Homo sapiens: one gene and its partner. The protein of the gene in region 1 purifies or fractionates together with the protein of each later gene. This does not show direct contact. Each region holds a gene or a part of one and is shown in the gene's direction. Other genes may lie near its edges.

Evidence for each region.
Region 2: the proteins of TRAM2 (region 1) and ZDHHC11 purify together in Homo sapiens (co-immunoprecipitation; one large-scale study listed by IntAct). This does not show direct contact.

What each region holds. Positions count from the first base shown.
Region 1 is NC_000006.12:52,514,561-52,518,060, reverse strand, and holds part of TRAM2 (translocating chain-associated membrane protein 2), read left to right. Parts: intron 1-1,323; coding exon 1,324-1,433; intron 1,434-1,938; coding exon 1,939-2,055; intron 2,056-3,500. UniProt on the Homo sapiens protein: Necessary for collagen type I synthesis. May couple the activity of the ER Ca(2+) pump SERCA2B with the activity of the translocon.
Region 2 is NC_000005.10:833,987-837,486, reverse strand, and holds part of ZDHHC11 (palmitoyltransferase ZDHHC11), read left to right. Parts: exon of another isoform or gene 1-6; coding exon 7-122; intron 123-3,500. UniProt on the Homo sapiens protein: Endoplasmic reticulum-localized palmitoyltransferase that could catalyze the addition of palmitate onto various protein substrates and be involved in a variety of cellular processes.

The sequences.
Region 1 (3,500 bases):
CCAACCGGGGGTGGTGTCTTTTATCTCCATGTTTCAACAGTTAGCCCAGTGCCTCTCACAGAATAGGTCTTTGTGGAAAGGAAGAGGGAGAGGAAAAAGGAAAGTTTGTCTGATTTCCAAGATCATGTTCTCTCTGTCCTCGCCACCTCCTCCCACCCCCTCACCACTGCCCACCGTTACATTCTCCCAGTCTAGGGTGGCTGAGATTAGGGTGGACTCCCAGAGTGACCCAATCAGCTTGACTTTGTTCCCTGGCCACCCTGAAACAAACTGAGCCTGGCTACCTTCTGGTAAATGCATCCCAGCAGTGAGATGACTCATGTGTGTGTGACTCAGAGCGAATGCAGCACAGCTGGAGAGCAGCCATTTGCCTGGTGGAGGTGGGGGTTGCAGAGAGCAGCCCAGACCCAGGCACACGGCCACCAGGCTCACAGCCCCGCAGCCTGCTGCCCACTGACTGGAGCAAGGATGCAGATTCTCCTCTGTCCACAGGCTGCAATGGCGGAGTTTCACAAGATTTCTATACCTGGGATGTTGTCTAATTTATTACTATTTAATTGTATTTTAATAAGCCACCATTTATTGCAGACTTACTGTAAATTGTTGGTACTGTTGTAAGCAAATTATCTCATTTGATCCTTGCACTAGCCCAACAACAAAAATAATAGCAAGTGCATATATAGCACTTAACTATGTGCCAGACACTGTTCTAAGCACTTCGCATTTATTCATTTAATTCTCATAATAAACTTACTATGCAGGAAATGTTGTCCTCATTTTTCAGATGAGAAAACTGAGGTACAGAAAAGTCACACATGGAGATACCCCTGGGTCACATAGGACAGAGCTGCAATACAAACTGAAGAGTCCAGCTTCTGAGTCCACATTTAGCCCTTACGCGGTGCTTTCTTGAGAAAGCATAACTATAGTCCCATTTTACAGGGGAGGAAACTGAGGCTCAAAGAGGTTAGTCCTTTATCCACAGTCACACAGTTAGGGAGTGATAGAGCCAGTGATGGGGATTGGTGGTCTCTAACCCTGGCTCTGTTATAACCACTGTGCTCTGCTGCACAGACTCAGGAGATACTGTTATGACAATACAGCCATGCACTTGGTTCTCCTTAGCCATCTCCATTGGTGCTTCCAAGTGCTAAGACCAGAGGGTGGGCAGGATTCTGGGGCAGAAACCTTCTTCTGAGTCTGAGGCTATAGCAAACGGGTAGCATTTGATGGCGCATTTCGCCTCCCATCTCATTTCAGTTTTGGGTCCCAGAGTATTTCCTTCCCCCAGGGATGCTGATGGGACTTTTATTACCTCCACAGACAGTGAGACCGTGCACTACCACTATGGCCCTAAGGACCTGGTCACAATCTTGTTCTACATCTTCATCACCATCATCTTGCATGCTGTGGTTCAGGAGTACATTTTAGATGTAAGTGACATGTCTGGATTCTGAGATCAGAAGCTGGGGAGGTGCCTTGGGGTGGAGGACCTGGCCTTGGAGGAAACTGCAGCTCTGCACCCATTCATCCTCCAACTTGCTTGCACTGGTTGGGTCTATTGCCTGGGCTTCCTTCACCACACTTTGGTTTCTGTTCACAGCCTCCTTTAATCAGCACATGGGACAGCAGTATTTATTACACAGAGAGAAAGCTGTCTGGAGATGGTGTCCTTATGGGTCTGGGGCACATTGAGTAATTGGGGTTATTTTCTTTACACATAGGCTAGAGACATTCATCTTGCCACTTTCTCAAAATGCTTGCCTTAGACCAAGCACTGTATGCACGCAGTAGGCTTACACCAAATGACTTGGATTATGGCCAGCTGCAAACTTCTAACGATGTTCAACCCTTCTGTGGGGAGAATACAAGAGTTTGAAACCTGCCCAATATGGATACATTTGTATATTAATATGAGGGGTTTTCTTTATTCTTTAGAAAATCAGCAAACGGCTTCATCTCTCCAAAGTCAAACACAGCAAGTTCAATGAATCTGGACAGCTGGTCGTCTTTCATTTCACCTCGGTGATTTGGTGCTTCTACGTGGTGGTGACGGTGAGCCATTCTCAGGACTGCTGAAGCGGGAGAGCTCAAACCAAGGGGCAATTCCAGCTCTGGGATTGCTAATCAAATGACTGCAAAGGACCCCTTGCTCTTTTTCTTTTTCTGTTAAGGGGAACAAGTTTCTTAGAACCTTCTTAGCTTCTTAGAACTGAAGCTATGTTTGCATCCTCATGGTATTACAGAGAGATGCCATTTTATAGCTGGAGAGAGTCATCTTGGCCAACAGTCACCACTTGTTATAATCATTATGCAATACTGCAGTAATGATACCATGTATCTACATAATACTGTATTGTTTTACAAGGCTCTTCTACAAACACTGTCCCATAAGATACATTTGATGTTCATTCTGATACCCATGTTACAGATTGAAGAGTTCCAAGCTCAAATTTTGCAGTATGCCTGTGGTTCTGTGGTTTTGAAACAGCAAAGGATAGTTTGGACTTGGAGATAGAGTTCCAAGCCCAGCTTACTCTCTGTTTTACTACCTTGGCCTTCTATAAACGAGGCCAGCCTCACTCTGTCAGCTCATCAAATCCTGTGAGAGTCAATGCCGTTTCAACAAATGCCTGCAGGACCAGACAATTTTCCCCTCCTTTCTATGTAAACAGACTCTTATTTCAAGCAGCCTTTGATACAGCAAAATTCCCTCATAGAAAGGAATGTGGATGGTCCTTTGGAGTTTCCTGTAACAAGACCTTGCCTGTCCTGCTAGGAAGTATTGAGTTAGTACCCACCACCACCTGGAGCTCTACCTTCCTGTAACCTGGCCCCCTGAGAAATCCATGCCTGGGTCTTGGAAAATTCAGCAACCCTGTGACCTCTTTAAGATTTCCTTCCCGGCCTTCCACAGATCCCTCACTTTCTTCCTCTTCTTTCAGTGACAGTGATGGGCGCTCCCATCACAAGGAACTCTGTCTCCAGAGTTGAATGTTGAATTCCTATTCTCAAAGCCAGAGTCAACGTGTCCTTTTGTACATTGTTTTTATTCCTATTATCATTTCATCATAGAGCAGCTTTCCTAAGCAGAATACTAGGAATTTTAAATGGGGGGCCCAAGACTTCTGTCCTCTCAGGCAAGGCTGTCACAGTCCCAGGGGCAGATTGACACTGTGTGAACAGTGCATCCCTGCTGTTGTGCCATGCACACAAGTCCCTAGACTTCCAGGTTTCAGACCACACCCAGTCCCTTGACGTTCAGTTCATGCCCACCCCCGGAGGCCTAAGCTGCTTTGAAGCAGAACAGCCTCAAGATACCAAAGACGCCGTTCAGGAGGATTGCCTCATCTCTGAATCACTTTTACCCTTTCAACTTCACCCCCAAACATTCCACCCCAGCTGTGACACGTGGCGACCAGATTTGGAGGCTAGAGCCAAGTTGCTTAACACGCCTTCCAGGGTGTGAAATGCTCAACAGCTCTGTCTTTGCCTCTCTC
Region 2 (3,500 bases), on another chromosome or scaffold:
TTCCAGAGGCCAAGAAGATGACCACCTTTGAGTATCTCATTAATAACCGCAAAGAAGAGAGTTCAAAACATCAAGCAGTGAGGAAAGATCCATACGTGCAAATGGACAAAGGAGTTCTCCAGGTACCACCTGTCTCTCTGCTCCATTTCTCCAGGCCTGGGACAATGTCTAAGGTCACTCGGTGGTTGGGACCTCTCAGCCATGCTCCTTTACTTCAGGGCCGATGCAGCCCATGGACTCTGCTGTGTGTGTGTCTGTGTGTGAGGCTCTGTGCATGGGTGTGTCTATGTGTCTTTGTGAACATAAACACCAGTCATGCACCACGGACTTCCTAGTGCAAAGATAGGAAAGGAACTGAGTCTCCTGGACATTTCTATACTGCACGATACATCTTCCAAAGTTGAAATGTGCTTTTTGCATCTTTTTTTTTGAGACAGAGTCTCGCTCTGTTGCCCAGGGTGGAGTGAAGTGGTGAAATCTCAGCTCATTGTAGCCTCCACCTCCTGGGTTCAAACAGTTTGCCTACCTCAGCCTCCCAAGTAGCTGGGATCACAGATGTATGCCACTACGCCCGACTAATTTTTGTATTTTTAGTAGAGATGTGGTTTTAACACGCCAGGCTGGTCTCAAACTTCTGGCCTCAGGTGATCCGCCCGCCTTGGCCTCCGAAAGTGCTGGGATTACAAGCATGAGTCACTGTACCTGGCCTGAAACATGATTTTTAACTTAAGGAAGTTAGTTCCCTTTCCGGTTAAGTGACATGAATTATTATAACTAACTCAAGAAGACATAGAAAGTCTAAATAGACATAGAACAGCCAAGAGACTAAACTACTAATTTAAAATCTCCCAGTGAAGAAAAATCCCAGGCCCTGTAGTCTTCATGCATGAATTCCAGCAAAGATTTAAAGAAAAAATACAATACAACCTACACACAGACTCTTTCAGAAAACAGAGAAGGAAGCAACACTTCCCAACTCATTCAGCAATGCCACTATCAACCTGACACCAAACCAGATATTCATAAGCCAGTACATTCAGGAAACACAGGCAGAGATCACTGATAAGACCTTGGGAAACCAAATCGAGCAGCACGGGGCAGGAATGTGCACTGTGGCCAAGTGATATCACTCCAGGGGTAAGCAGTGGCTTAAGGCCTAGGAATCAATTACTACAGCTCAGCACGTTAGTCCAATAGAGAACGGTAACCACGCAATCATGCCAATCAATGCAGAAAAGGGTTTGTTAACAGCAAGTTCCCATTCATGATTTTTAACAAATCTCAGTGACCTAGGAATGATAGGAAAGCACCCTGTGTACCTGACGTGACATTTACTGGTGAAAGGCTTGTGACCCTCTCTTGGAGGCTGGGCACAGGTGATGACGCCCTTTCCTCCTACTTCTGATATCACAGTCACATTCTGGCCAGCCCAGCATAGCAGGGAAAATGAAGGCACAGAGAATACAAAATAAAACTGTGTTTATTTGCAGACAATGAAACCTAAAAAGTATGTTTTAAGACCTAGTTAAGATAATTAAATCACTTAACAAGGATGTGGGGCACATATTAAAATACACGCTCGCACATCTCTATCCACCAGCAATGAAAAATCCGGGTTATATTTTTAAAACTTCCTTTCATAGTCTAATAAAAAAAGAATAAATTTGACAAACCTTATGCAAATATGTACACTGAAAGCTACACACCATGACTGAGAGAAGTCAGAGACGCTCTATTAAGTGAAAAGGTGTACAGCATTCATAGATTGGAAAAAAATACTATTAAAAGGGCAATTTTCCCCAAAACTTATCTACAGATTTACCACAATCCCTGCTGAACCCCAGCAGGCTTCTGTTTTAGCAGAAATGACAAGGTGGTCCTAAAATGTATATGCAAATTCAAAAGACCTAGGCTACTGTACTAGCCAAATGATTTTGAGAAAAAATAAAATTGGAGAACTTACACAACCAGACTTTAAATGTTACTATAAAGCTGTAGCACTAAAGACAGGTGGCGCTGACAGAGAGAGAGACATAAAGCTACAGTAATAAAAACAGTGTGGCACCGACAGAGACAGATATAGAGAAATGGACCAGAAGAAAGGTCCAAAGTTAAAGCTTTCATTTATGGTCAATTGACTTTAAATAATGGTACTAAAATCATTAAATAGGGAGAAATTATAGTTCAACAAGTGGTACTAGAACAATTGGATATCCACATGGAAAAGAAAAAAGAATGATTGAGTTCTTCATACCTGTACAAAGATTACCCAGGATCACTTCATTCGCCACGGAAGAATTAGCCCCAAATCCATCTGACACCTAAACTTAAAAGCTGAACATAGAACACTTCTAGAAACAAGCATAGAATGAAATCTCTGTGATCTTTAGTGAGACAAAGCTTGTCTTTGATCTGACACCAAAATCACTGCCTATTAAAGAAAAAAATCATAGTTTGGACTTTACCAAAATTGAAAATATTTGCTCTTCAAAAGTCACCATTAAGAAAATAAAAATACAGGCACACATGAGAGATACTGCAGGTTTGGTTTTAGAAAGCCACAATAAAGTAAACATGTCAGTAAAACAAGTCACATGAATTTCTGGTTTCCCAGTGCTTATAAAAGTTACGTTTACATGACGTGTGCAACAGCATTATGTCTAAAAACTATGTGTCTGAATTAAAAGTGCTTTATTGCTAAAAGCTGCTTACACAGACAATTGAAGTGAGCACACACTGCGGGGAAAATGGCGCCGACATACTTGCTTGACCAGGGTCACCACAAACCCTCAATTTGTGAAAAAACACAGTATCTGTGAAGTGCAGTAAAGCAATGCACAATAAAGCCAGGTGTTCATTCCTGTGCAAGCCACAGGCAAACAAAATATTTTCAAGTCTTAGACTGATGTCCAGAATACACAAAGACACAAAGAGCTTTCAAAGTGCAATTGTAAAAAAACAACAAACAAAAACATAAACAAACAGAAAACTCAGTTTTTCAAATGGGCAAGAGGGCTGGACACAATGGGAAGCACCTATAATCTCAGTGCTTTGGGAGGCCAAGCAAGAGGATTGCTTGAGGCCAGGAGTTCAAGACCAGCCTGAGCATCTCTACAAAAATAAATAAAAATACATACATACATATAAAAAATGGGCAAAAGATTTGAACAAACTCCTTACCAAGGTAGATGTAGATGTATAGATATATGGATGCCACATAAGCACATGGAAAAAAATGCTCAACATCATTCTACATCAGGCAGCTGCAAATAAAAACCACAATCAGATACTACCACACACCCAGGAGAATGCTTGTCATCAACAAGACAGACACCACCGAGGGTTGGTGAAGTTGTAGAGAAATTGCAAGTCTCCTGCGTTTTTTTGCTAGTGGGAGTTAAATGAGGGTGTAAAGTGCCACCACACTGGAAAGCAGTTTGGCATTTCTTTAAAAGATAAATGTCTAATACATGACCAGAATCCCACTCCCAGTTTCTCAC